Homo sapiens: one gene and its partners. The protein of the gene in region 1 interacts with the protein of each later gene in a pairwise test. Each region holds a gene or a part of one and is shown in the gene's direction. Other genes may lie near its edges.

The links.
Region 2: the proteins of ZBTB26 (region 1) and ZMYM5 interact in binary tests that used the Homo sapiens proteins (3 or more experiments, as listed by UniProt).
Region 3: the proteins of ZBTB26 (region 1) and EHHADH interact in binary tests that used the Homo sapiens proteins (3 or more experiments, as listed by UniProt).
Region 4: the proteins of ZBTB26 (region 1) and TRIM41 interact in binary tests that used the Homo sapiens proteins (3 or more experiments, as listed by UniProt).

The regions. Positions count from the first base shown.
Region 1 is NC_000009.12:122,921,484-122,928,516, reverse strand, and holds part of ZBTB26 (zinc finger and BTB domain-containing protein 26), read left to right. Parts: intron 1-7,033. UniProt on the Homo sapiens protein: May be involved in transcriptional regulation.
Region 2 is NC_000013.11:19,860,650-19,868,108, reverse strand, and holds the start of ZMYM5 (zinc finger MYM-type protein 5), read left to right. Parts: upstream 1-4,459; 5' UTR 4,460-4,659; intron 4,660-4,739; exon of another isoform or gene 4,740-5,282; coding exon of another isoform or gene 5,283-5,285; intron 5,286-5,642; coding exon of another isoform or gene 5,643-5,710; intron 5,711-7,459. UniProt on the Homo sapiens protein: Functions as a transcriptional regulator.
Region 3 is NC_000003.12:185,251,042-185,258,181, reverse strand, and holds the start of EHHADH (peroxisomal bifunctional enzyme), read left to right. Parts: upstream 1-4,132; 5' UTR 4,133-4,159; coding exon 4,160-4,233; exon of another isoform or gene 4,234-4,356; intron 4,357-4,909; exon of another isoform or gene 4,910-4,972; intron 4,973-7,140. UniProt on the Homo sapiens protein: Peroxisomal trifunctional enzyme possessing 2-enoyl-CoA hydratase, 3-hydroxyacyl-CoA dehydrogenase, and delta 3, delta 2-enoyl-CoA isomerase activities. Catalyzes two of the four reactions of the long chain fatty acids peroxisomal beta-oxidation pathway.
Region 4 is NC_000005.10:181,219,295-181,226,313, forward strand, and holds the start of TRIM41 (E3 ubiquitin-protein ligase TRIM41), read left to right. Parts: upstream 1-3,986; 5' UTR 3,987-4,705; coding exon 4,706-5,518; intron 5,519-7,019.

The DNA.
Region 1 (7,033 bases):
AGTAATTTGCCCACTTCCACATAACAGTTCAAAAAAAAGAACTAGGCCGGGCGTGGTGTCTCACGCCTGTAATCCCAGCACTTTGGGAGGTGGGAGGCTGAGGCATGAGAATCACTTGAACCTGGGAGGCTGAGGTTGCGGTGAGCCGAGATCACACCACTGCACTCCAGCCTGGGCAACAGAGCGAGACTTGGTCTCAAAAAATGAAAAAAAATCAAAAGAAGAATTAAATCTATATTCATCAACATAAATTGCTTTCAAAAACAATGAGTGAAAAAAGTAAGTTGCAAAACAATATGTATAGTTTATGTATAAGAAACTTAATTACGTTATACTTTTGTGGCTAGACATATAGAAGTATTGTTTTTAAAATGCCAGGAGGGGCCGGGCACAGCGGTTCATGCCTATAATCCCAGCACATTGGGAGGCCGAGGCGGATGGATCACTTGAGGTCAGGAGTTCAAGAACAGCCTGGCCAACATGGTGAAACCCCATCTCTACTAAAAATGCAAAAATTATCCGGGCTTGGTGGTGCATGCCTGTAATCCTAGCTACTCAGGAGGCTGAGGCAGGAGAATTGCTTGAACTCGGAGGTGGAGGTTGCAGTGAGCCAAGATTGCACCACTGCACTCAAGCCTGGGCAACAGAGCAAGACTCCGTTTCAAAAAATAATAAATAAATATATAAATAAATAAACAAAATGCAAGGAGGGAGAGTCAGGAAGGATCAAACTTAAACTGAATACTGAGTGGTAGGCAGTTGAGAAGGGGAATTACATCTAAAATCTTCAAAAATTTTTCAAGAAGAATACATTCTGTATATATTACTTAAAAGTTGAAACAAAAGCTTGATAACTTGGAGAGTATCGTGTCATGAAAGTTACCTAAAAGAAGAACAAGATTAAGGTTTATAGAGAGAAAGGCTGTAGTATAATACAGCCTCTTTAGAAAAAGAACATACCATGTCAATGAGGGACAAAGATTTCCAAGTAGTTTTGAGTGGTAAGTTGAAAGATAAGGGCACTTTTATGAGACAGGTGAGGAAGCAAACTGATACCTAGCTTAAGAATTTATTATACAGATAGAAAAATTTTACTTGCCAGTAGTTATTAGAAGCATTTGAGAAAAGAAACTATTTTCTCACTGCCTGTAGTATAGCAATTTACATTGTCCCACCTGGAATATTCAGTAATTAGTCATTTTTTACTATCCTCATTTGAACAAAGGGAAAATTTCAAATTAGTTATAATTGTGGAAGGATTGTATAAATATAAATGAAGAGGAAGTGAGAATATTCCCATTACATTGATGTTTGAGAAATATCATTCAAAACTTGCTAATAGAAACTCAACAGTATTCAGATTTAATCTCAGTAACTGAGGCAATAGATAATAAAGACCTGAACTATGGCAATGATGTAAGAATGGAGGAGTGAGGAGTTGGTGATCATTCTGAGGAAAGAATCAACAAAATATGATGACTGTGTCTCTGATCTACCTGATCAGTTCTTTACTTTCCTTCAGTTACAAGAAGCTTGACTATAACCTAGAATTATCTGAGTGATTTTTATGATTATTTTGAGTAATTACTGCTATACTTAGAAGTTACCTACAGTTGGGGATTGTGAAATCAAATATATTCATAATTTTTATTGTCTGCTTTATTTGCAAATGGCATTAAGTTTCAGTCCACAAAGATAAATACACAAAAGATGGAAAATAATATAAAGTAAAATAGATGAGAAAGGTATAATAAGGATAAAGGCATAATATGCAATCAGGAATATGACTAATACATATATGCTTGCCATTTAAGTCTTCTAATTTCATGCAAATTTGGCTTGAAGTTATAACTTGTTTTTAAACATAAACCTTTTTTTGAAGCATAACAAAAACAAAAATATACAAGTCATAAGTGTGCAGCTCAATGAATTTTCTTGGCCTGTGTTTGTGATACTGAATGTAAGGAAGGAAATCTGAAGAGTTACACAATTTTTTTTTTTTTTTTTTTTGAGACGGAGTCTCGCTCTGTCGCCCAGGCTGGAGTGCAGTGGCACAATCTCAGCTCACTGCAAGCTCCACCTCCCGGGTTCACGCCATTCTCCTGCCTCAGCCTCCCGAGTAGCTAGGACTACAGGTGCCCGCCACCACTCCTGGCTAATTTTTTTTTTTGTAGTTTTAGTAGACACGGGGTTTCACCGTGGTCTCGATCTCCTGACCTCATGATCTGCCCACCTCGGCCTCCCAAAGTGCTGGGATTACAGGTGTGAGCCACCGCACCTAGCCGAGTTACACAATTATTATCCTTGAGATAAAACTGTACCAGCCAGGTGCAGTGGCTCACACCTGTAATCCCAACACTTTGGGAGGCTGAGGCAGACAGATTACCTGAGGTCAGGAGTTCAAGACCAGCCTGGCCAACATGGTGAAACTCCATCTCTACTAAAAATCCAAAAATTAGGCCTGGCGCAGTGGCTCATGCCTGTAATCCCACCACTTTGGGAGGCCGAAGCAGGTGAATCACCCGGGTCGGGAGTTCGAGACCAGCCTGACCAACATGAAGAAACCCCGTCTCTACTAAAAATACAAAATTAGCCAGGCGTGGTGGCGCCTGCCTGTAATCCCAGCTACTGGGGAGGCTGAGGCAGGAGAATCACTTGAATCCGGGAGGTGGAGGTTGCGGCAAGCCCATTGCACTTCAGCCTGGGTGACAAGAGTGAAACTCTGTCTCCAAAAAAAAAAAAAAAAAAAAATTAGCTGGGCATGGTGGCAGGCACCTGTAATCCCAGCTACTCAGGAGGCTGAGGCAGGAGAATCACTTGAACCCAGGAGGCAGAGGTTGCAGCAAGCCGAGATCACGCCATTGCACTCCAGCCTGGGCAACAAGAGTGAAACTACATCTCAAAACAAGAAAAAAAAAATTGTACCTAGATTAGTTGTTTCATACCTGGATTTTGGCATCATGCAGTGTAAACCACCAGTTCCAGATCTAACACTTAACACTTTCAACCTCCGTTGGGGTTTACAAGTTATTTATGTTTTCTAAGCTTAGTTTCGTCATATACAAAATGTGGGATAATGGTAATACTTACCTGTAGAAATTTTCACGATTAAATGGGTCAATTTATTTATTTATTTATTTATTTATTGTGATAGGATCTGGCTCTTTCACCCAGACGAGTGCAGTGGCATGATCATGGCTCACTGCAACGTCTGCCTCGTGGGCTCAAGCCATCCTCCCATTCAGCCTCCCAAGAAGCTGGGACTACAGGCGCATGACACCACGCCCAGCTAATTTTTGTATTTTTTGTAGAGACGGGGTTTCACCGTGTTGGCCAGGCTGATCTCAAAGTCCTGAGCTCAAGCAGTGTGCCCACTTCAGCCTCCCAAAGTGCTGGAATACAGGCATGAGCCACTGTGCTCGGCCTAAATGGGTCAATTTAGGTATAACATCTATACCTGAAATGTAGCAAGGAAGATTAGGTATCATTTCTCTTATTTTTAAATAAAATTAAGATGGTTCATAAGAAACTTTTTTTAACTATCAAAAAAAATTTTTTTTAAGTGTTTAAAACAGGTTCATGCCTGTAATCCTAGCACTTTGGGAGGCCTTGTGGGAAGACTGCTTGAACCCAGGAGTTTTAGGTTACAGCGAGATTTGATTGCGCCACTACACTCCAGCCTAGGCAACACAGCGAGACCCTGCCTCTACAAAAAATAAAAACATTAGCTAGGTGTGGTGGTGTGCACCTGTAGTCCTGGCTACTCAGGAGGCTGAGGCAGGACGATTGTTTGAGCCTTGGTGCCAAGGCAGCAGTGAGCTATGATTACGCCACTGCATTCTAGCCTGGGTGACAGATGACAGAGTGAGACCTTGTCTCAAAAAAAAAAAAAAAAAAGAAAGTTGAAATTTGGTTTTATATTGCCAAAACTATTTTGGTAACAAACCCTAGAAAGAAAGCTTTCCCTAGGCACTCAAAAGAAGATATCATAATGAAGAGCATCTGTACCATAGCCTAGTAATAATTTCATGGGGGAACATTAAGAACTCATTATTCTTCTGTTTTTTGTCAAATGAGCTGTATAAAGTATAACAAACCATTGGTCATTGCCCTCAAATAACTAACAGTCTATTGGAAAGAGAAACTAGTGAAAGGAAACAATTAAGGGATAAGATGTGTGGCCTGGAAATAAGAATTTATCAGAGAGAGACAATAGAGTGGGCTGACACATCCTAGGGAAAACATCCTTTAAGAAACCAATAAATTTTGCTCACATTCTTAGACTACAGCAGACAGATCAAAGCAAACACTTCCCTGAACTATCTGGTTGGCTGCTGTTGTTGATAATTTTCTTGAGAACTGATGGATAGGAAGCACAGTCATGCATCACTTAACAACTGTGATGTGTTTTGAGAAATGCGTCGTTAGGTGATTTCATCATTTTGTGAATATCACGGAGTATACTTAATGCAAACCTAGATGGTATAGCCTACTACACACCTGGGTTGTATGACACAGCCTGTTGCTCCTTGGTTATAAACCTGTACCACATGTTACTATACTGAATACTGTAGGCAATTGTAACACAATGGTGTTTGTGTATCTAAATATAGAAGAGGTACAGTAAAAATATGGTATTATATTCTATGGGACCATCATTGTATATGCAGTTCATTGTTGAACAAAACACTGTCATATGACACATGACTAAATGAAACTACACTCCAGCTCTTCATCTTTAGAGCAAGGAACAATTGTCTCTGAGGATAGTTGTCTAAAGCATTGTGAGTACTGTCATAATATAGGTAGAACCAATGAATGCTTATTTTGGGGTGTGAGGAGGGAAATACTGATCTGAGGGTTTCATAGGCACCTTCAAAACCAGCTAAATGCTAAAAAAGAATGCCACTTTTGTTTGGCCACTTGAAACAGTCATTTTTACAACTCTGGTTACAAATTGGAACATTCATCACTCCAAATCCAAAATGAGTATTTTAAGCTACTGCAGTTGCTAAAAGTGACCAATGATAATAGTTTTGCTGCTTTAAATTACTGACATTTTCCCTGTATATCTTCTACATTTTCCCTTCATGTTTGATACTCACTGTCTTTTCTCTGATGTTTCATTTGCTTGTCTACATCGCTCCTCTCTCAATGCAGTTTTTGTATTTATTGTGATTATCGGTACATTCAAAATGTCATACAAGGGGAAAGATTATGCTTTGTTTGTGTTTTTATTAATATACTTATTACTTCTTCTTATATTGGTGCCACACCAGTTCCCCCTCCTAAATTTCACCTCTCTTTCTTTTTTTTTTTTCTTTTTTTTTTTTGAGATGGAGTCTTGCTCTGTTGCCTAGGCTGGAGTGCAGAGGCGCAATCTCGGCTCACTGCAACCTCCACCTCCCGGGTTCAAACAATTATCCTGCCTCAGCCTCCCGAGTAGCTGAAACTATAGGCGCCCGCCACCATGCCGGGTAATTTTTTGTGTTTTTAGTAGAGATGGGGTTTCACTGTGTTAGCCAGGATGGTCTGGATCTCCTGACCTCGTGATCCACCAGCCTTGGCCTCCCAAAGTGCTCACAGGTGTGAGCCACTGTGCCTGGCCGGTCACCTTCTTTCAATGCCATTCTCATTCAAATGAACTCCTAAATGTAGAATCTTTACACATTCCTTTTATTCATTCTCTATATCCAGTCAGTTACCAAGTTCTTTGAAATATCTTTTGTTATTTTTCCTTTCGTCTTATTCCCATTTTTATTTCTTTCTAGGCCATCATGGCCTCAGACCTGCAATGCTTCTGCAGACACTAAGCTGGTCTTCCTAACAACAGTTCTTCCTTACCACTGTCAAACTAATCTGATAGGTTCAACTAATGCAAACTGAGCACTTGCTGTGTATTTAGTGCAGTCTTAGGCGATGGGAATACACACTGATTTGAACAGAAGAGGGTTTGGCCAGTAATGGGACAAGCAATGTAGCTGCAATAAGTATAATATAATTCAAAGCAAAAGTAAAGAATATTTTGTCTTAGAAGATGCAAGTTCCCAGCATTAGATGGAGATACTTCCCCCTAATACCATGAAACTTGGAGTTTGGATGGGAAGGAATAAGTATTTAATAAAGTGTGTTGAGTGTTACAGTAGAAGTATGCAATGGGCCCAGAAGAGACAATTCTACTCTATTAAGCGGTCAGGGAAGGGCCTCTCAGAGAAAATAAAGGAGTCACAATTGTTTAGAAAGTGGTGTTTTTGTTTGTTTTATTTTACTTTGTTTTTTTAGACAGAGCCTCATTCTGTCACCCAGGCTGGAGTGCAATGGCACAATCTCGGCTCGCTGAAACCTTCACCTCCCAGGTTCAAGTGATTCTCCAGCCTTGGCCTCCTGAGTAGCTGGGACTACAGGCACGTGCCACCACACCTGGGTAATTTTTGTATTTTTCATAGGGACAGGGTTTCACTATGTTGGCCAGGCTAGTCTCGAACTCCTGACCTCGTGATCCACCCACCTCAGCCTCCCAAAGTGCTGGGATAACAGGCATGAGCCACCATGCCTGGCTTGTTTTTTGTTTTGGTTTTTGTTTTTGTGATGGAGTTTTGCTCTTGTTGCCCAGGCTGGAGTGCAGTGGTGCAATCTTGACTCACCACAACCTCTGCCTCCCGGGTTCAAGTGATTCTCCAGCCTTAGCCTCCTGAGTAGCTGGGACTACAGGCATGTGCCACTACGCCCAGCTAATTTTGTATTTTTAGTAGAGATGGGGTTTCTCCAAGTTGGTCAGGCTGGTCTTGAACTCCCGACCTCAGGTGATCCGCCTGCCTTGGCCTCCAGAAGTGCTGGGATTACAGGCGTGAGCCACCATGCCCAGCCTAGAAAGTAGTGTTTTAAACTAAGGAAACAAGTATCATTAGGTCTGGAGCCAAGAGAGAGCTGTTATGTATCAGGCATTAAGGAATAAGAATAAAACCTGGACTCTGCCATCAGGAGCTGATATCCATTGTTACAGAAGTTAAGATGATAAAGATTGGACTTTGGG
Region 2 (7,459 bases), on another chromosome or scaffold:
AAGAGAAGGTTGGGGGTTTTATGAAAAAGAGAAATGTTACCTATTGCTTGTTGAGAAAGCTCTCTGGCACTAGTAAGGTTCTGGGGAGCTGGCAAGCTCCAAATGGTGAGCAACGGCAGTGGCCAAAATTAATCCTAAAGTTGCAGCAAGCCATCTCAGCAGTCTTAGATAAAACTGGTTTCAGGCTGGGTGCAGTGGCTTACGCCTGTAATCCCAGTACTCTGGGAGGCTGAGGTGGGCAGATCACTTGAGGTCAGGAGTTCGAGACCAGCCTGGCCAACATGGTGAAACCACATCTCTACTAAAAATACAAAAATTAGCTGGACGTGGTGGCGCATGCCTGTAATGCCAGCTACTCTAGAGTCTGAGGCAGGAGAATCATTCGAACCCGGGAGGCGGAGGTTGCAGTGATCCAAGACTGCGCCACTGCACTCCAGCCTGGGCAACAGAGCAAGACTCCATCTCAAAGAAAAAAAAAAGCATCCTACTGATTCTAGAGATCTTTTTAAAAATATAGCAACCAGTCATCTCATGCTTTTTCAATCTTAGATTCTGTTCCTTCTCTTCTAATAAATTTTCATTATTTATTGCTTAAAATAGCTTTTCACTGGTTTGTCCAAGATAAGCATTAATTCCCTCAGTCTCTTTTCTCTCTTCCCCACCCCAGTTGTTTTTGATCTATGTTTCTAATATCCCTATGAATTACTTGGGATGACAATTTAAGAATATTGTAAGACAACACTTTTTTTTTTTTTTTTGAGATGGAGTTTCGCTCTTGTCGCCCAGGCTGGAGTGCGATGGCGCGATCTCTGCTCACGGCAACCTCCGCCTCCCAAGTTCAAGCAATTCTGCCTCAGCCTCCCAAGTAGCTGGGATTACAGGCATGTGCCACCACGCCTGGCTAATTTTTGTATTTTTAGCAGAGACGGGGTTTCTCCATGTTGGTCAGGCTGGTCTCGAACTCCCGACCTCAGGTGATCCACCCGCCTCAGCTTCCCAAAGTGCTGGGATTACAGGCGTGAGCCACCGCGCCTGGCTGTACTAAGCCACTTTCAAAGAATAAATAAATTTTGGTTCCAATTACATTTCCTCTACGGTTTATTTTACATATTAACTCCAAGAATTAAATATTTTCATATTACAATAGTAAGAAAGTGCTGATGTTACTTTAATAAGTCATTAAATTATTATAAACAACTTTTTTTTTTGTTTTTGAGACAGGGTCTCACTCTGCACCCAGATGCTGGAGTGCAGTGGCACAATCATGGCTCACTGCAGCTTTGACCTCCTGGGCTCAAGTGATCCTCCCACCTCGGCCTCCTGAGTAGCTGGGACTACAGGCATGCACCACTTCTGGCTAATTTTTAAAATTTTTTGTAGAGACTGGGTCCCACTATGTTACCTAGGCTGGAAGAATTTTTTCCTATTTATTTAGTTAGTTTTTGAGACGGAGTTTCGCCCTTGTTGCCCAGTCTGGGGTGCAATGGTGCAATCTCGGCTCACCGCAACCCCACCTCCCAGGTACAAGTGATTCTCCTGCCTCAGCCTCCCGAGTATCTGGAATTACAGGCATGCGCCACCACGCCCGGCTACTTTTGTACTTTTAGTAGGGACGGGGTTTCGCCATGTTGGTCAAGCTGGTCTCAAACTCCTGACCTCAGGTGATCTGCCCGTCTCGGCCTTCCAAAGTGCTGGGATTACAAGTGTGAGCCACCGCACCGGGCCAGAATTTTTTTTTTAGTGTACCACTGTGCTGATTGGGAATTAACAATGACAGGCAAAATTTACAAGCTTTTATTAATTAATGTGCCAGGTGCAATTCTAAGTGTCATATGTGTGATAATTTATTTAATTCTTTTTTTGCTTGTTTTTTGTTTTTCTTTTTTTGAGATACAGTCTTGCTGTGTTGCCCAGACTGGAGTGCAGTGATGCAGTCTCGGCTCACTGCAACCTCCACCTCCTGGGTTCAAGTGATTCTCCTGCCTCAGCCTCCCAAATAGCTGGGATTACAGGCGTGGGCCATTGTGCCCGGCCAATTCATTTAATTCTCAAAAAAAAAAAATCTTAAGTATTTGTTACATTTTTTAAATGATAAAAGTGAGGCTGAGTTTAAGTAACTTATCTGTTAAGATGATCACACAGCTACTAGTAATAAAGTACGATTCAAAGGCAGGCTATCTGGCCCCTTTGTGTAGACTTGGTCATAATGCTGTGACTTTGTATTAGCCGGGAGTCCTGAATTATCAAAAGATTTACAATAAATGACACTATCTTGTTGAACAATGAAGACTTTTTTTTCCTAAATTTTCGACAACCCTCGAAATCATGGCAGCATACTGAGGTGAGCGTTTTCATTGGGACATGAACCTGTCATTCCTGCCACTATCAGGAAAAAGAAATGTTACCCAATTTTAATCTTTGAACAGTATCAATGCCAAAAAATTGTGAAAAAGATAATCAGAAAATAGATGACAAGTGGCTACTGAGCTTACCATTTAAAGTTTCTGTCAGACCTTCAAATTTTCTCTATGGAGCCCTTCTCCACGAACTCAGGGTAGTCAGTGCTTGTAATTTACAGCAGTCATTAAAATGATGACATTACATGTAATTCACTTATTTCCAAAGAGTAACTGAGGACCTAAAAAATGTAGGTGATATTAGGCATATCCATGACATACAGCACTATGCAATATGCAAAGGCTTACACAGAACTCTCATCAATCCGTGAACATGCTTTTGTCTTAGATCAAGCTTGTCCAACCTGCAGCCCTTGGGGGTTGCATGCGGCCCAGGACGGCTTTGAATGCAGCCCAACACATATTTGTAAATTTTCTTAAAACGTTATGAGATTTTTTTGGCGTTTTGGTTTTTTCGTTTGTTTTAGCTCATCAGCTATTGTTACTGTTAGCGTATTTTATGTGTGGCCCAAGCCAATTCTTCCAATGTGGCCCCGGGAAGCCAAAAGATTGGCCACCCCTGCATTAGATGGTTAACGTCTGATTTTCATTGAATAAACCTGTGCCTTTACCATACCACAGAAGTAAAACGGGGCTCAATGTGTTTTTTAAAAATCACATTATCTGTATTTCCAGACATAAGGTAAGTATTTCACCAACTTTCATCCAAACTAACATCCTCAATTGTAATCCCACTAAGAACCGCCAGGGCGAGACGAAAGCGGAATCGCTTCCATCTTTACGTGGAGTCCGGGAAATGGTTCAGCACCATGACATCCGCCGAAGACGTAGGTGTAGACGAGGAACAAAAGAGAAGACCCCTCGTGGAGGTGGCCTGTGGGGCCCGCCCTCACCGGGCGCCATCTGTCCCTGATTCTGCTCCCCGCAGGGGCCGCAGCGGGTGCGCCCCGCGATAGAGCGGGCTGTGGAGGGAGCCTCCATGGAGTCTCCATCAACCATTCCGGACCAGGAGACGGTGGCAGGCAGTAAAAAGGCCTAGGCAGGGCCAGCGCCCCGGGCTGCTAGCACAGGACGGCGGCGCCCAGGGACGCCCCAGGGCAGGCCTCAGCCCCTCCAACCCGCGAGAGCCCAGCTCCAAGGGAGCCTGCAGCTCCCTCCATCTTGGTTGATGGAGGCGGGGAGCTGCGTCTGGGTGTCTCCACCGTCGCGCCCGACCAGTACTGCCCCGCGGACGCAGACGCCGGCAGCTGGGGCTGTTCCCTTGTCCGAATGGCAGAGCCCAGTCGGGGCTTCCGGGACAAGTCCTGGCCCCACGGGGTTTGGTTTTGAGGGGTCCCAAGTTCCCACAGTTGTCCCGACAAAATGGAGGACGTCGTCTCCTCCTGCTGCAGCCATGGCGGGAGGTGGGGGACTATTCCCCACGGGGCGCGGCGAGGGTGGAAGGGCCTCCACTGACCGCAGCGCACTCAAGACTCCAGTTCAACCGCGGCCCCGAAAGCTCACTTGGCCCCGCTCCAGCACCTCCCCGGCCTCGCCCCTCTTGGGGGCCTTCAAGGAACTGGACAGGGAGGGCGCTGGGGCATCCAGGCCGCCGCTCTCCTCGAGCAGAGGCGTTGGGAGCCGCTGCCGCAGCTTGGGCCCCCGGGCTCGGGCGAGGGCAGGCAGCCCCGCCGGAGTCTCCCGGGCTGTGTAGGTCCCGGAGAGCCCCGGGCCCCGAGGGGCCGAAGCGGGCCGCTACGACGGGCGGCGAATCTCGGGCTCCTGACCCTGGCGGACCCGGTAGCTGGGGGCGGGAGACCGGCGGGGAGACAACCCGACCGGGAGTTGAGGGCTGGCAGGCGGGAGTGGAACTGCAGGGCCGCGGGTGTGGCCCGCACCTGACGGACAGCTCTTCGGCCACCCCACCGAGGGGGCGCCCTGAAGGACGGCCGTCGGAGCCAATGGGCGTGCCCAAGGCGCCCAGGCTCGTCTCCCTCGCCAGCCAACGAGCGCACGGAGGGTGGGGCCTCCTCGGGCTCTGCTGCGCCGTCCCCTGCTTCTCCGCCTCCTCACCAGCGCGAAAAGCCGGGACTGGACCTCGCGGAGTTGTGCTTGTCGCCGAAGCGGGGTGGGCTTGTTCGTTCCGCGCAGCCGCAGCCAGAACCGGGTGACGCTTATCCCCGCTGTCTTTCCAGTCCAGGGCCGCTGAGAGTGGGGGTGGCTGGGAGCAGCGCAGCCTCCGGAGGAGGAGGCGGAGGCCGAGGTGAGTGGGGAGGCGGAGATGGGTGAGAGCAGCCTCCGGAGGCTCCCACCGACCCGGGATTAATACCCCGCGGCGCGGCCGCCGTCGCCGTTGCCGCTTCGGGGCCTCGAGGGCAGCTCGGGGCTGCCCTCCTGTCACCGGCGCTTTTGCGTCCGGCCTGAGGGGCTGGGAGAGTGCGAGCGAGGCCGGGAGGGTTGGGTGAGGCGGTCGCCAGCGGCGGAGGTCGCGGGGCCGGCGGGGAGGCGGGGTGGCGGGGCGGGTTGCCGGCCGCCCGGGGAGGTCGCGGGGCATTTTTCTTTCTCTCCTGCCGCATAGTGGCGGGGGGCGGGTTGGGCGAGGGAGGGGCGCCCCGGCCGGGTCTTCGCTGTCAGGACCGCGCTGCCACCCTGCCGCCGGAGCCGAGGTCCCCAGGTTTTTCGGGCGAGGGCTTCTGCCTCTGCCCCGCTGGGTCCCCTCCTTCGCTCATCTTTTCCCAGGCGCTGCGCGGCTTTTACTCTTTGCTGCTGATCTGGGCGAGTTTAATGGCGGATCTGGGGCCCTGTCGTCGACTGCTGGGGCCCCAGGGCAACTTCTTGAGGCAACTGTGGGCCCAGAGGTGATGCGCGCCGCCCGTTACCTCTGAAATGGTGCTTGGAGTGACAGAGATGACGCTGGGTGGGCAAATTTAGGAGGGAATACAAATCCCTTGCTGGCGTCGAGACGACGTTTACCCTTCCCTCTCCCGTCCTGGGAGCAGGCCTCGGATCCCCGAGCCCACTGCATCCCCAGTACTGCAGTTGGACGAAGCACTTTTAGCTTTGTCTCGTCGTTGCGGTTCCTATAGTTCTTTTTTTTCAACTTAGTTTCTCGGTAACATTAGGGTGGGGGAGGGTAGCAGAGCCCAGGAACTCCTTGGCCTCTTACCCCTTTGCCACCTCACGGTGTTGAGTTGGTTGTGCATCCAGATTGGTTGTACCGAAATTGGTTTTCAATTCTCATTCTAGGACCAGGAATCACCTTCAAGCCTATGTCGTGAGGCTTTGGCAGAAATTAAGAAGGAAATATCTCCATTGTGAGTTGTTTTTTTTTTTTTACCCCGCTTTGCTGTCTAATATAATTAGTGCAGTAGTAGGGTGTTCTTCCTGAGGGATTTGCCTTTGTGTTATCTTGAAGGCCTTGGCCTTCAAGCTAATTGCTTGGGTGCCCCTGTCCCCAGAGCCAAGCCATGGTAGTCCCTGGGAAGGCACGGGGAGTGCTGACATTTATACCACTGGAACTCTCTCAAGTTCCAGAACAAGATTTAAAGTTAGCTCTCTTTTAAGTGCCTTGAATTTAACAATTTTTTCTTTTCCAGTAGATTGGAAAAACTTTTTTACTGTTGGATTAAAAAGAAACACTACTGAATAATCTGTTGTTTTGACGTTGATATTTGCCTTGTATTTGAGGAAGACTGTTATTTATGTACCCTGACAGTCCTCCAGCTAGCATCACACGAGGAGATAACATAAACTAGTTGTCAAACTATTCCTAATTCTAAGATTGACCACCGAATCTGAGTGGCCTGATCTCTCTCTGTTAGGAAGTTAATGTTTGTTTTTGTTTTTTCGGGTTTTTTTTTTTTGCTACTAGACAGTGATCTATGTGTTCATTTTGGTACAGTACAAATGCCCTTTCTCTGTCAGCTATTCACTTAATGCTTTTAACACCAATCCTTGTGTGAATAATTTCATTAGGAGTGACAAAATGATTTTTTTTTCTTTAACAAGCTTTACTTCTATTTTTATTATCTGGGATTCAGTTCTTGCCAATTTTGTCCTTTCAACCCTGATCAAACAGTTTTCCATTGCTCATCAAAAACAAACTTGTGATTAGCTTATCTCCCATAGTAGTATTCCTGCCTTCCTTTTACCCTAGTTGCTTTCTACTAACTTATTTGCTCTTATTTTCTTACATTTCACAGCATATCTCTTTAATTAGTTAAACTTAGGACTGTGGCAGGATGTGGTAGGTAGGTAAAGTGGCTGGGCACAGTGGCTCATGCCTGTCATCCAACCACTTTGGGAGGCTGAGGTGGGTGGATAGCTTGAGAGCTTGAGCCCAGGAGTTCCAGTGTGGACAACATGGCAAAACTCTTTCTCTACAAAAAATACAAAAATTAGCTGAGCATGGTGGCACATGCCTGTAGTCCCAGCTACTCAGAAAGCTGAGGTGGGAGGATCGCTTGAGTTCAGGAGGTTGAAGCTGCAGTGAGCAGTGATCACACCACTATACTCCAGCCTGGGCAACAAAGAGAGAGTCTGTCTCAAAAAAAATGGGTAAAGTGGCTCTGGGCACTGTGACTCACTCCTGTAATCCCAGCACTCTGAGAGGCCAAGCTGGGAGGATTGTTTGAGCCCAGGGGGTTGAGTCTGCAGTGAACTGTGTTTGTGCCATAGCATTCCAGGCTGGGCGACAGAGCCATACCCTGTCTTAAGAAAAAAAAAAAAGCCTGGTCCATAAGGTTTGAGACACACACACACACACACACACACACACGTGCGCATATACATGCATATAGTTAGTGGGAGATACAATTCCCCCCCCCCCACCTGAGATATAATCCTTATCCTCTTTATTTTTTCCTTTATTTCTTGAGATTTTTCTCAGCTTTATCTTTCAATTCTTATTGCTGAATTTTTCCTTTTTGCCACTAAGCTTTTAATTTCCAGCAGTTCTTTTTATATTAGAAGTGTTGGCTGGGCATGGTGGCTCACACCTGTAATCCCAGCACTTTGGGAGGCCGAGGTGGGTGGATCACCTGAGGTCAGAAGTTCGAGACTAG
Region 3 (7,140 bases), on another chromosome or scaffold:
TATTTTTTAATATACTTAAGCATGAAGCTGGTTAAGTATGGAGCTAAATTTCACATACATGCATGCATTGCTTCACACCGTTTACTGTTTTGCATGGATAGTGCTGGCACTGGAGTACTTATTGGTCATGTGCCTAGAGTGAATTTCTTGATTGTACAGGATGTATGATGATATTGGTGGACTTAAGGATATTGAATGGTGTATCAGGAATAAAATATTCATTATATGGGTGTTTGGGGGCCCTGAGTAACACTGTAGCCTCCAGGGTAGATTGAGTAGGAAAAATTTAGGGTGGGGTTCCTGTTTGTTTTTGCTTCTAATTTTCATTTGTTTGCTGTTTATTCTCCTCCAGGCTTTGCTTGTGGTCGCATAAATAGAAAACCATTTTTTTGTTTGTTGTTTTAGTTTCTAGTGGAAGGCTTTTATTTGGTTCTGTGAATAGTTATTTTATTTTCTATGCATTTCTACCAAGTCATCATTTGTTCCATTTATCTGGAATTCCTAGGCTACCTTTGTTGAGCTCACAGGAATTGGTGGAGCACACTAAGCTTTTTAACCTTAAACTAACTTTTTGGATATTAGGCTTCCTGATACTTTAAGTATATTGAGTATACTTTTGTAAATAGAACTTGAGTCATATTTCTCTCTCTCTGCCTAATTTCTTCAAAATTTGTAAATTGTTTGTGAATATTCTTAATTCATAGCAATGTGTTTGTTTGCATACAGTTGAGCAGGGTCACTAGGGCTGCTCATGGAGAGAGAACTCAAGAAAGCTGACATGCCGGCAAAAGGGTAAGAATTTCTTACCAGTTGGACTTCTGGCCCCTCTTTGTGCAAACTGGTTGAATGAATGGTAAAATATAATGAGAAGGCATGAGAATGTTAATTTTTATAAACATTTAACAAGCTTCCCAAAATCAAATTGCAGCTTCAAAATTGTCTTTTCTGACCTCAAACTTTGAGATGCTACAGCAGGCCCGTGAACCATCCAAAAGAGAGGTAAACAGGATTATTTGATATGTTTAGTTACATGGGAAGCATTGTGAAAATAAAAAATAATGTTTAATCATCTTCAGGTTATATATTAGTGAATGATATTAATATATGTTCCAGAATTGTATGGAATTTCTAAAATTCTAATATGTCTGAGTATATGCTATCAATCATAATTATTGTGTTATTGTAGACCACAGAAATAACCAAATCTCCTTGTCAATAGTGTTTTTAACTATCACTATTTAAAGTCATTTGAACTCCATGGTCTAAGTCAAATCAGCTATGAAAACCCATTAGTTATCAGTGCTATGCACCTAAATTGGAGAAACAACTGGTATTCAAGAGGACATAAGTCCAGTGTTAAGCATGGACTCATGGAAAACCAAGATGGCCACCTTGTTCTTCCTGAGTCCTTAAAGCTTTTGTTATTAAAGTTTCTGCATTCCGTGACTCATCATGGAAAAGATAAAATGATCCAGATTAAATATATACTGGTTTGCTGACTTATAAATTGCTAAAATAGTTTATAACCAATGTTTGGTTTACAATCAAAGCTTCAGGTACATTTGGCTACCTGATGGGCCATTTAAACATTTAAATTGTCATTTTATTTATTTATTTTTTTTTTTTTGAGATGGAGACTCGCCTGTTGCCAGGCTGGAGTGCAGTGGTGCAAGCTCAGCTCACTGCAACCTCCACCTCCCAGGTTCAAGTGATTCTCCTGCCTCAGCCTCCTGAGTAGCTGGGATTACAGGCATGTGCCACCACGCCGGGCTAATTTTTGTATTTTTATTAGAGACAGGGTTTCACCATGTTGATCAGGCTGGTCTCAAACTCCTGACCTTGTGATCTGCCCACAATGGCCTCCCAAAGTGCGGGGATTACAGGTGTGAGCCACTGCACCCAACCATCATCCTTCATTTACATAGGGCATACACCAGGTAACCAATGCAAACCTCTAGAGGGTATTGAAATCCCAGAAAATTCTGTAACTGGTCCCTTGAGCCACTTGCTCAGGCCTGCTCCCACCCTGTGGAGTGTGCTTTCATTTTCAATAAATCTCTGCTTTTGCTACTTCATTCTTTCCTTGCTTTGTTTTGCATTTTCAATTCTTTGGTCAAAACGCCAAGAACCTGGACACCGTCCACCCATAACAGTTTCGCTAGTTGCATGTGATTGTAAGACAAATAAAAATGATGTTGTGGGCTGGGTGCGGTGGCTCACGCCTGTAATCCCAGCACTTTGGGAGGCCGAGGCGGGTGGATCACAGGGTCAGGAGATCAAGACCATCCTGGCTAACACGGTGAAACGCCATCTCTACCAAAAATACAAAGAATTAGCCAGGCGTGGTGGCGGGCGCTTGTAGTCCCAGCTACTCGGGAGGCTGAGGCAGGAGAATGGTGTGAACCCGGGAGGCGGACTTGCAGTGAGCTGAGATCGCGCCACTGCATTCCAGCCTGGTCGACAGAGCCAGACTCCGTCTCAAAAAATAAAAATTAAAAAAAAAAAAAGATGTTGAGGCAGGAGTATAGGGCCTGAAGGCAGGGAACCTAAAGACTTTCTAGAACTAAATCAAATGGAAACACTTCAGCTATGACAGGAAATATTCTCTTCATTTACATAGGGTGTACACTGAGTAAATGACTTCGTAACTTCACTTCGTCCTCTTCATTTACATAGGGCGTACACCCAGTAACCAATGGGAAACCTCTAGAGGGTATTGAAACCCCAGAAAATTCTGTAACAAGGTCCCTTGGGCCTCTTTCTTGGGCCCACTCCCACCGTGTGGAGTGTCTTTTCGTTTTCAATAAATATTCGCTTCTGTTGCTTTGTTTTTCCCTTGCTTTGTGTGTTTCGTCCAATTCTTTGTTCAAAACGCCAAGAACCTGGACAACTTGCAGTCCAGACCCTCCTCTAGTAACAATGTTATATAAGTATTTGGTTGATGTTAGAGTAATCACTGGATGGGTTCTTCCTGCCTGCTGCACAAACAAAATCAATTCAGGAAGACCACAGCATTGCAGTAAGGAAAGAGTTTAATTGATGTGAGGCTGGCCACGCCACATGGGACATGGAGTTATTACTCAAATCAATCTCATCGAAGGCTAGTAGGTTAGGGGTTTTTCAAAGGTGGTTTGGTGGGCAGGGGCTAGGGTATGGAAAATGCTGACTGGTTGGGTTGGAGATGAAATCATAGGGGTTGAAGCTATCCTCTTGTACTGAGTTGCTTGTGGGTGGGGCCACAGGAGCTGTTGACTGGTCCAGGTGGAGCCATCAGTGTCAGGCAAACGTGAAAAAATATCTCAAAAGGCCAAACTTAGGTTCTACAATAGTAATGTTACCTGCAGGAGTAAATGGGGAAGTTGTCTATCTGGTGGCTTCCGGAATAATGGCTGGCAATGGTCTATGTTTACACCTTAGCAGAGAGAATTCACACTCCTCTGTCCTCCTAGCCTGGTGGTCTCTCGGTTAGCTTTACAAAGGCAGTTGAGTTTTGGGGAAGGGCTATTATCATTTAAACTATAAACCAAATGTCTCCCAAAGTTAACTTGGCCTAAGCTCAGGAATAATTAAGGGCAGCTAAAGGCAAGATGGGGTTGGTTAAATCAGATCTCTTTGACTGCCATAATTTTCTCACTGTTAGAATTTTTGCAAAGGCTGTTTCATTAGTACCCTACTCATTTAGGTGAAATGAACAATGTGTATTTTATGTGTTCCAGATGTGTATCAATATCACATAACTGTCAGGGAGGGCCCCAGGTATCTGTCCCTGTTCAGAAAGATCATGAAGATGAATACCGCGATGAGGACAGCTTGCCCGTCTCAGCGAACTCAGAACTTGTCCTCAGTAGCCAGCCCCTATGGGCCAAGGGGTTACAAACTTCGACTTGCCGGCAATTACAGCTGTTTTCCATCATTCTCCTTGCTGTACCTTCTGGTGGGAGCAGCATGGGAGTTAATAAAGGGAAAGCGACAAGCGTCTGTAGAGCGCCGGGTGGGGTCTCGGGAGAGGAGGGCTGGGTGGGAAGAGGCGCGGCGGGAGGCGGCGCCCCGGCTCGCATTGGCCCAGCCGGCGTCCCTCCTCTGGAGGAGGCCGGGCGCGCCCGGAAAAGTGGTTTGCCTGACGGCGAGAGGCAGAGGTGCCCTCGGTGATAGAGGAAACATGGCCGAGTATACGCGGCTGCACAACGCCTTGGCGCTAATCCGCCTCCGAAACCCGCCGGTCAACGCGATCAGGTAACGGGCTCGGTCGCCTCCAGCCCGGGGACCGTGCGGGCCTTAGCCGCCCTCTGGCTCCGGAGGCTTTGACTCTCCCCCGTCGGTTTAAACCGAGAAGGACACTCAAGAGTTGAGCAACTGGTACATGCCAGGAACTTTTTTTTTCTTTTCTTTCTTTCTTTTTCTTTTCTTTTTTTTTTTTTTTAACCTAGATTAGCTTGGTTAATCTTCGCAGGGAACTCTCGTCCCCGTTTTACTGATAAGGAAACTGAGGCTGAGGCTGAGACAGATCAACACTTAGGGAGTTGGCCTCGACCTGTCCTTCATGCGGAGCCCTCCTGCTTACTTGCAACTTTGGCTTTGCAGGCCGACTTTTTATTTTTCTTTTTTTTTTTTAATTATACTTTAAGTTTTAGGGTACATGTGCACAACGTGCAGGTTAGTTACATATGTATACATGTGCCATGTTGGTGTGCTGCACCCATTAACTCGTCATTTAATATTAGGTATATCTCCTAATGCTATCCCTCCCCCCTCCCCCCACCCCACAACAGGTCCCAGTGTGCAGGCCGACTTTCTAATCCAAAGGTCTTAACTTAGTTTGATGTTGGACTTTGATCCAGCCTCACTCCCCTTCTTTGAGTCCAGGCTGTCCTTACAATGTTTGGCTAAAGGCTTTAGGAATAGGGCAATCACTGGCATTAGTGGGACTTTTTTTTTTTTTTTTTTTAATGTTAAAAGTCCCACTAATGCCAGCTCAGTGATTAAAGCAGAATTTTGCCCTGGCCCGGAAACGCAAAATTATTTCTCCTGATTTGTTTAAACCTCAGGACTTTGGTGCTTCCAAGGAAGACTCACATCAGACTAAGCCTATGCAATAGCATTTTCTGAAAAATTGCACCTTATCTTCTTTTTCTCACTGGGGAGTATTTGCCTTGTGTGGTGCACTTTAAACATTAAAAAGTGAGATCAATGTTGCCTTTTTGAAAAGTAATGATTATTTGGTTTGGTCCTTCTACATCTCTTAAAAAAATAATTATATGTCAGCCTTGAAAAAGAATTACCTATCCACAGGGAATAAGATTAGTGGAAATTATAATTTATCAAGAATATATAAAGCATAGAGAGAAAGGTCTTTGGTCAAAATTCTTATAACATGCTGCTGAAGCAAAGAGACTGAAATGAGAAGACCTGCTAATTTTAATAGAATTTAAAAATCCTACTGTCATTGGATTTGATTTATCATTAGTATTAATATTAATTCATTATGAATTATTGCATTTAATAATGTCAAAAAATGCAGGACTAAAATCACATAAGGATGACATGTCTACTAACTTGCCATTCCCAGAATAAAAAGCAAAATATCTGTTATATTGGTTTTGACAAAGAAAAATGTAAGTAATATGATTACATGTCAATTTTGGACTGGTCTATATACTGATTAGAATTGCTAGATATTAGGACCTTAGGGGGAAAAGTTCCATACTCTAATACCCATGACTAGGAATATTTTCTGACAACTGTTTTTTTTTTTTCTTTTTTTTTTAAGCTCATTTGCTTGTTTTGAGACGGAGTCTTGCTCTGTCGCCAGGCTGGAGTGCAGTGGCGTGATCTCAGCTCACTGCAACCTCTGCCTCCCGGGTTCAAGTGATTCCCCTGCCTCAGCCTCCCGAGTAGCTGGGACTACAGGTGCGTGCCACCACGCCCAGCTAATTTTTTGTATTTTAGTAGAGACGGGGTTTCACCATGTTGGCCAGGATGGTCTCAATCTCCTGACCTCGTGATCCACCTGCCTCGGCCTCCCAAAGTGCTGGGATTACAGGCATGAGCCACGTGCCCAGCCTCTGACAATTGCTTTTAATATTTCTGGAATTTAACCTGCTCTCCTTGCCCACCCATGCAACCACCTGTGCCACCCCCATCCTCTTTGCAGGAGAAATGTTAGGGCCTACCTCATAAAGTTGTGAAGTTTAAATCAGCTGGAAATTATGAAGTGGCATTTAATAGATGTTAGTTATTCCTATTAGTCAGAAGACCTGTTCAAGCCCCAAAAACAGGCCCTGCTACTCAGGACCCACTTCAGTTTCATCAAGAAGATATTCTCCACTTGGGAATAAGTACTTCTCTGCCCTTTTTTGTCTGTCTTCTGAACTTTTTTAGGTAGAAATGGACATCCTAGGAGTTCCTCAAGTTTAACAGATTCCTCAATTTTTTTCTTACACTTTTTCTTTCCTCCCTTTCTTCCTTTTCCCCTTCCTATTTCTAATTTTATATGGGAAGTCGTCTCCTCCTAGCTGATTGAGAGATTCTTACTTGAGTGTAATACACACACACACACACACACACACACACACATATAAATTTTTTCCCCAAAACAAATAGTTTAAATCCTTCATTGCTAGTTTAGCCAGCCATGTTTGCTTCCATTCAGATAAACACCAGCCCTCTTTATAAGTATAGGACATGCCTGATTAATAGGCCTGTCTCCCAGAACAATGGCTTTCACACGATTGCTTTACTGTAATCCACAGAGTAAGAAAGCTCACGTTTTTACGTAGCAATTCAAGACACACTTACATACAAACACGTAACCGAAAGCAGTTTCCTAAAACAAAACCTATCCTTACTTGGTATATTGTTTGATATAGTCTATTTTCTCATCTCTTCTTTTTCTTTGAAAAAATCCTGGTCACAAGCCACAAACTTGATTTGATGACTTTTGGTTTAAAAAAAAAAACTGTCTAAAAAAAAAAGGAAAGACCTTCTATAGTCAAAGAAGCTGAAGAGTTTTGGTCAGTAGTCATGAAATGCTGTCTCTACTCCAGACTCTATTTCTTCATGCCTGACAGTATTAACAGGAGAAAATAATTTCATAACTTCTGCGGCCTTTACATTGCTATGACTCTCTCTGTCAGCTTGAAT
Region 4 (7,019 bases), on another chromosome or scaffold:
CCTAGCATCCAAGGTATGTACGTATGTAGAGTTGGAATACGCTTAACGCCTGTCATATGGAGATCTGCATATATGTAAATTTAAAAGTAGTAGCGATTGCTTAATATTGTGAAATGTTTTTCCGCCGCCGACGCCTAATTTCCGAATACCTGGATTGCTTGGAAGCGAGGCGCAGTCCTGCTGATCAGGGATCCTTGCTGCCTCTGTGACCCCGAAGGCCCGCTCCTTTCGGCGCAGGGCGGGAGCCCTTCTTGTGTGCGTCTGATTCTCTGGTCAAGGTCACCACGGGCCTCCAGGTGGCCCAATCCATGGACGCCTTCTCTTACGAGACCATGTGCTGAACTGGACGCTGCCAATCTCCTTTGCACTGTGCGGCACCCTAGGCCTGGGTGGGCGCTTCGCTGCAGGCTTTTCTCCCATCCCGTCTCCGCCTCCGAGCGCCCAAGGCTGACCCTGGAGCGTCACGTCGGCTGGCAGCAGGACCCACACCTTAGCTCCGTCTCTGGTTCCAGCAAGAACTGTTCTCCCAAGCTTCAGATCCACGCGTGTCTTGGGCAGTTTTTCCAGGTATCTCACAGCATCTAACGCCCAACCGTTCGAGACCTAAGTCATTGTTTTTTTCTTCCCTCCCCTCCCGCATCCTCAGCCTGTGATCTAGGTTGTGGAACTACCCAAATCTATCGCCGCTGCAAGCCTTGCATCCCGCTCCTTCACCTGCGTCTCCCTCTGGCTGCCGCCTCACCCGGCGCCGGCCGCCTCCTGTATGGACCAGGCCTGTGTCCTTCCAGCCCCTGTCTCCGACAGTCTTACTCCCCCTCATACTCCCTGTTTGCATCACTCCTGAAGGAACCCCCTGAAATATAAATCAGAGTGAGTCCCTCAGTCTCCCCAGGCCCCATCACCACAGGGTTTGGGAGGAGGCCAAAGATCCCACCAGGTTCATGTGTGTGTCGTGCTTCTCCGACTGTTGAACGCTTGCCGCCTTTGTGCCCGGAGCAGCTTGGGTCACTTGCCTGGAGGGGCATCCCAAACCTGACCTGGCCAGAGCGGCGACGGGTGGAAGGGGTGGAGAGGAGAGAAAGCAGGAATTGTAGCAAAAAGCTCCAGCGGGCGTTCCCTTGGCTTGCTAGAGGACAAAGAAGAGAAGCCTGTCCACTTCATCTCCACTTTAATGAAAAAGCCAGAATCCTTTAAGAATGTTTTCCAGTCCCAGTGAAGGTGGTAAAAAATAACCCTGAAATCACAGTCTGCAAAAGAATCCGAAATAATTTGTGCAAGACGAAATGTCAAACTTAAAACTCTTTGAACACCAGCTTTGAACACCAGTAACTCATGTGCTAGGATTGTACTAGCGACTCTGCCTATTTACAAACGTTGACCAACTTCTGCCCAGACCGCCCTCACAGACTATATAGCCCTCATAAGTCCCCGCTTTGATTTACGTCTGAGACAGAAGACGATGCTATCTTTTGCTCAGCGAGATTAAGCCAGCTTTCTATGATCAACAGACTTCTCTCGTGGTGTGGTGCGTATGCGGAGGAGACTTCGACAGCTTAAAAATACAAAACGGGGCCAGGCGCGGTGGCTCACGCCTGTCATCCCAGCACTTTGGGAGGCTGAGGCAGGAGGATCACGAGGTCAGGAGATCGAGACCGTCCTGCCAACATGGTGAAACCCCGTTTCTACTAAATACAAAAAATTAGCCGGGCGTGGTGGCGCGCCTGTAGTCTCAGCTATTCGGGAGGCTGAGGCAGGGGAATCACTTGAACCCGGGAGGCGGAGGTCGTAGTGAGCCGAGGTGGTGCCACTGCACTTCAGCCTGGAAACAGAGCAAGACTCCATCTTAAAAAAAAAAAAAAAAAAAGAAAGAAAGAAAGAGAAGAAAAAAAGAAAAAAGGCCTATATTTGCAGGACTAATTTCGAGGCCATCCTGGGCTCAAGCGATCCTCCCGCCTTGGCTTACCCAAAGTATTGGGATTACAGGCATAAGCCACCGCGGCGCATGGCCCGTTTTTATCTCTATTTATGTATGGGGGAAACGTGGAGGCTGGTATTTGTGGGGCAACATCTCACAAAAATAGACTCTTAAAGTCAAGAGCATAAAAAAGAATATACGGAAGACAAGTGTCTCATATGACACAAAGCATCTTTCTTGACAGGGAGTCGAAAGCAGGTCGTAGCGAGACAAAGGCGGAAGCCTAACCACTAAATCTCCCAGTAAAGTGGGAGTGAATCAGATAGGTTTTGACGCTCACGAACGCCTGGGGTCGTCCTGCGGTCTCACCCCAGTTTCGATAAACCACATTGTTCCCTCCAGCACAGCAAGTCTCACAGCAAGACGGGGGCAGGCCGTCTGGTAAACATAAAATGCCTAATATGTGCTGCCCGTGGGCGAGTGGCCTACAGCAAAGGGTCATGCATGCACGATAGCCCGCGGTGCTGGCCTGCAGGAATTGGTCCACAGGTACCCGCCTCTCATTCTTTCTTTGAGAGTTAGCGAGGGTGCAAACGTTGTGAGAATTCTGCTCGGGGCCTTCCACACACGGATCGGAGAACACCAGGTTAGTCCAAGTTCTAACACCCACTGTTGGTGAATCTGCTACCCACTAGGTCTTGGTACAGAGAATACCATTTGTGCACTTAGGTAACACAACTTGCCTTAACCTTTCCAAAAAGCGAAATTACGCCCAACGTGGGGCTCGAACCCACGACCCTGAGATTAAGAGTCTCATGCTCTACCGACTGAGCTAGCCGGGCGGCCATGTCTGTATTCTAACTTTGTCTCTGAAGATGGAGGTTACCCTCAGAGGTGTAAGCACGTTTCCACTGTGCAAATACTAAGAAGCGCCTGCGCCTGGCTCTGTTCTAGGCACTAGAGCCGAGGATCTGAAATCTACGGATTCCTGTACATGTGATGGCTGCATAGGCTTCAGAAGGGAAGAGCAAGAGATTAGGTGAGGGGCGAGACCTGAATTTACTTGAGTAGTGCTCTCCTTCAGTTTTGCCCCAGTCCGTGTTCCTCCGAAGCGCAGGGACACACATGTCCTTCCTGCCACGTAAGGCCGGCCTCGGGAGAGAATCTCCCGAACAGACCAAAACGTGTTTCCGCCCGGTTTCGAACCGGGGACCTTTCGCGTGTGAGGCGAACGTGATAACCACTACACTACGGAAACCACCTTGGCTACTTTCCTGCCGGCATCGTCCTGAAGACACACACGGCTGAGACGGCCGGGATAGCTCTAGGCAAGCGCCCTTGTAGGACAGGCCCGGGGACCCCTGCCGCGGCCGGCTGAGCGGTGTCCAGGTTCTGGAGCCGGACTTGTCCACCGCAGCCGAGTCCGCAGGTCCTGTAATGGCCTAGCATAGTTCACCCACGAGGGTTCGTGGTTTTTGGCGCGTTTGATCTGACATACTCAGAGGCCTGACCACCCCCCTAGGAAGCGCGACGTCCATCTGGAGTTTTCCCGCGAGCCGCCTTGAGAGCAGGGTAAGTTCTGCAGGCCCAGCCCTGGCGTCACGCTGTGTCTGGCACTCACTGGAGATTCTGTACATAAATCATGGCCCCGTCATTTTTCTCGCATCAAACAACATTTATTTATTTATGTATCGACATCAAATCTCTATAAAAATAAAATTTAAAGAGCTATTTAAGCATCAAGTATTATTTCTACCGCACAAAGCATCTATTTTTGCAGAGATGCTGTGAGAATGTAGATGTAATGATTCGTCACCACTTCTTCACTGCTGGGCAGTTAGGGAAGTTCATCTAAACCATGAGACAGTGTCCGGTTGGCAGTTTCTACCTCGGATGCGAAACGCCGACTACAGTTGGGGAAGGGTGGGGCGTCTGCTGCCCTAACCCGCGAAGCGCTTTCTCAGGCCCCGCCCCCGGTCCGACCCGGACGACCCTCTGAGTCCTCCACAACGAAGTCGTCTGCCTAGAAGGGCCGGAAGTACTTCAGGGCGCGCCGCGGACCCACCCCCTCGCTTCCGGCATCGGCTGTGGGGAGTACCGGCTGCAGTCGGCTGTGCCGGGAGGGTAGGATGGCGTCTGGCCGATGCGGTGATAGCACCGAAAGCAGACGGCCGCCAGGCGCTCCCCCTACCCCCCGAAGTTTCTCCCCAGCGGCGGGGGATGGGGGTAGGCGGTTCCTCTGTTCTTTCTGCGTTCCCCGCGGCCTCTTACCACAGAGACGCGGGCCTCCACCGTCCTAGCCCTCCCGCCCTGTTCTCTAGTGCGGACTAGAGCGTCTCCTCGCCATTTCCTGTCGCCCTGGGGCCCCGCGGGGAAAAAGGGGGAGTAGCAGGACAGCGGAGGGAAGTCGCGAGCTTAGGTGGTGTGTAGACGCCGGAAGTGTTGGGAAGGAGGCCGGAAGCTAGGGGCGGGGCCAGGAAGTGAGGAGGGGCGGGGGTTTATGAGGAGTCCAAGGGAGCATTGGGGCAGACTTGTACTCAGAGCCACCTGAGGGACTTGGCGGTGGCGCCCAGCACTGTCCCCTCCCCTCGTAGAGACACGGTTGTCGTTTGGGAGTAGGGAACACTGTGTTGGGGTGGGTTGTCGGCAGGACATCTCTCTGGCTGCTCTTGGGGCGAGGTGTGGAGGGGCAGGGCTGGGGGTGGAGCCGGGTCGCCAGGGCGTCGGTAGGGAAGACCCCCGCCCCTCGCCCCCCCACCGAACCTCTACACTGGCTGGCTGGACACTAAGATGGCTGCCGTTGCCATGACACCCAACCCTGTGCAGACCCTTCAGGAGGAGGCGGTGTGCGCCATCTGCCTCGATTACTTCACGGACCCCGTGTCCATCGGCTGCGGGCACAACTTCTGCCGAGTTTGTGTAACCCAGTTGTGGGGTGGGGAGGATGAGGAGGACAGAGATGAGTTAGATCGGGAGGAGGAGGAGGAGGACGGAGAGGAGGAGGAAGTGGAGGCTGTGGGGGCTGGCGCGGGGTGGGACACCCCCATGCGGGATGAAGACTACGAGGGTGACATGGAGGAGGAGGTCGAGGAGGAAGAAGAGGGTGTGTTCTGGACCAGTGGCATGAGCAGGTCCAGCTGGGACAACATGGACTATGTGTGGGAGGAGGAGGACGAGGAGGAAGACCTGGACTACTACTTGGGGGACATGGAGGAGGAGGACCTGAGGGGGGAGGATGAGGAGGACGAGGAGGAAGTGCTGGAGGAGGTTGAGGAAGAGGATCTAGACCCCGTCACCCCACTGCCCCCGCCTCCAGCCCCTCGGAGGTGCTTCACATGCCCTCAGTGCCGAAAGAGCTTTCCTCGGCGGAGCTTCCGCCCCAACCTGCAGCTGGCCAATATGGTCCAGGTGATTCGGCAGATGCACCCAACCCCTGGTCGAGGGAGCCGCGTGACCGATCAGGGCATCTGTCCCAAACACCAAGAAGCCCTGAAGCTCTTCTGCGAGGTAGACGAAGAGGCCATCTGTGTGGTGTGCCGAGAATCCAGGAGCCACAAACAGCACAGCGTGGTGCCATTGGAGGAGGTGGTGCAGGAGTACAAGGTGAGAGAAGTACAGAGAGAAGATGGGAGTTTAGTGGGGGGATGGAGAGGAAGTAAGGGGACCTGGGAAAAGGAAACATCTCTTCACCCACCAAAGAACCTCATGGTATTGGTGAGCCAAGTTTGCTTATCTAAGCACTTACTGCCACCAAGGTGGATTAGAATGAGAAGGATTCTGTACACAGAGCAGATGCAGTGAAGACGACCAGGGAAGGATGGCTTCCTCAAAGCAAATAGAGCAAAGCCGGTGATGCCAGATCAGGTCTCTAGGGCTTTACCAGAAGTCTCGTTTTCTTTCGGGTGAGTCTTAAGTCTGTCCTTGACGGAGACACCTAGAGATGGAAAGAACTGGGGGCTTCAAAGGACAAGAAAAGGCTCAGAAGCAGGAACACAGAGATAACTGCTAGTGTCAGTGTCAGACCCAAATGCTCTGCACTTGCCTCCCAGTGGGTTCCCCACCTACCACGATATGGCTTGGTTCTGTCTTCAAGGACTTTGGTTGGCTCTGTGTCATTCTTATGCACTGACTAGAAAGCAGGAGCTTTTCAGTCAGAAGACCTGGCTCTGCAAGTTGCATTGTCAAATCTTGATTAAGTCTGTGAGTGTCTTTGGACTTTAATTTGTCCAGGATTGATAGTTAATATTCACTGGACATTTATATGTATACCAGGCACTGTACTAGGCACTTTTCATGGACTGTCTCGTTAAAACCCAGACAACACTGAGTTTGATATGTTTTCCATTCCCATTTTATAGATTGGGAAACAAAGTCAGAGAGGCTTTAAGTACCATACAGAGGGCCACAGAGCTTCAGTAATAATTGACTTAGTTATTTACTGTCCCTTCCCCTGGTGTATACTAACAACGCCACCACCATTTGGATGTCTGTTGTTTGACTTTTCTGATGTGACTTTCTTGGAGTCTGATTCTAGTTTGACAAATACCTTGCCCCTACTTCTCATTTTGACTCTTCTTTGGACATAGGTAAAGGAGATTTGTTTGCAAGGCAGCCAGCACAAATAGCACTACTTAGTGAAGGCCTGGATGGGTTTGAAGCAGTGGGACCAGGAGGAGGAGGGGGTAGCCTCTGTGTGGTCTGCACAGAGCTTTTTTTGTTTTATAACTCATGTTTTCAGACCTTCTCCTGATTCCTGCTATAACTTCATTTAGGTATTATTTTCGTTACCCCAATTTTAGAGTAATGTGTCTAGGGTTTCTCAGCTCTGAGTGGTACAGCTAGACATACCTACATTACCTCATCACAAGTAACAATTTCTTTTACAGAGTGGCCTTTTTTTTTTTTAATTTTTTGAGACGGAGTCTCACTCTATTGCCCAGGCTGAAGTGCAGTAGCATGATCTCGGCTCACTGCAGCCTTCACCTCCCGGGTTCAAGTGATTCTCCTGCTTCAGCCTCCTGAGTATCTGGGATTACAGGCACTCGCCACCACAGCTGGCTGATTTTTGTATTTTTAGTAGAGATGGGGTTTCACCGTGTTGGCC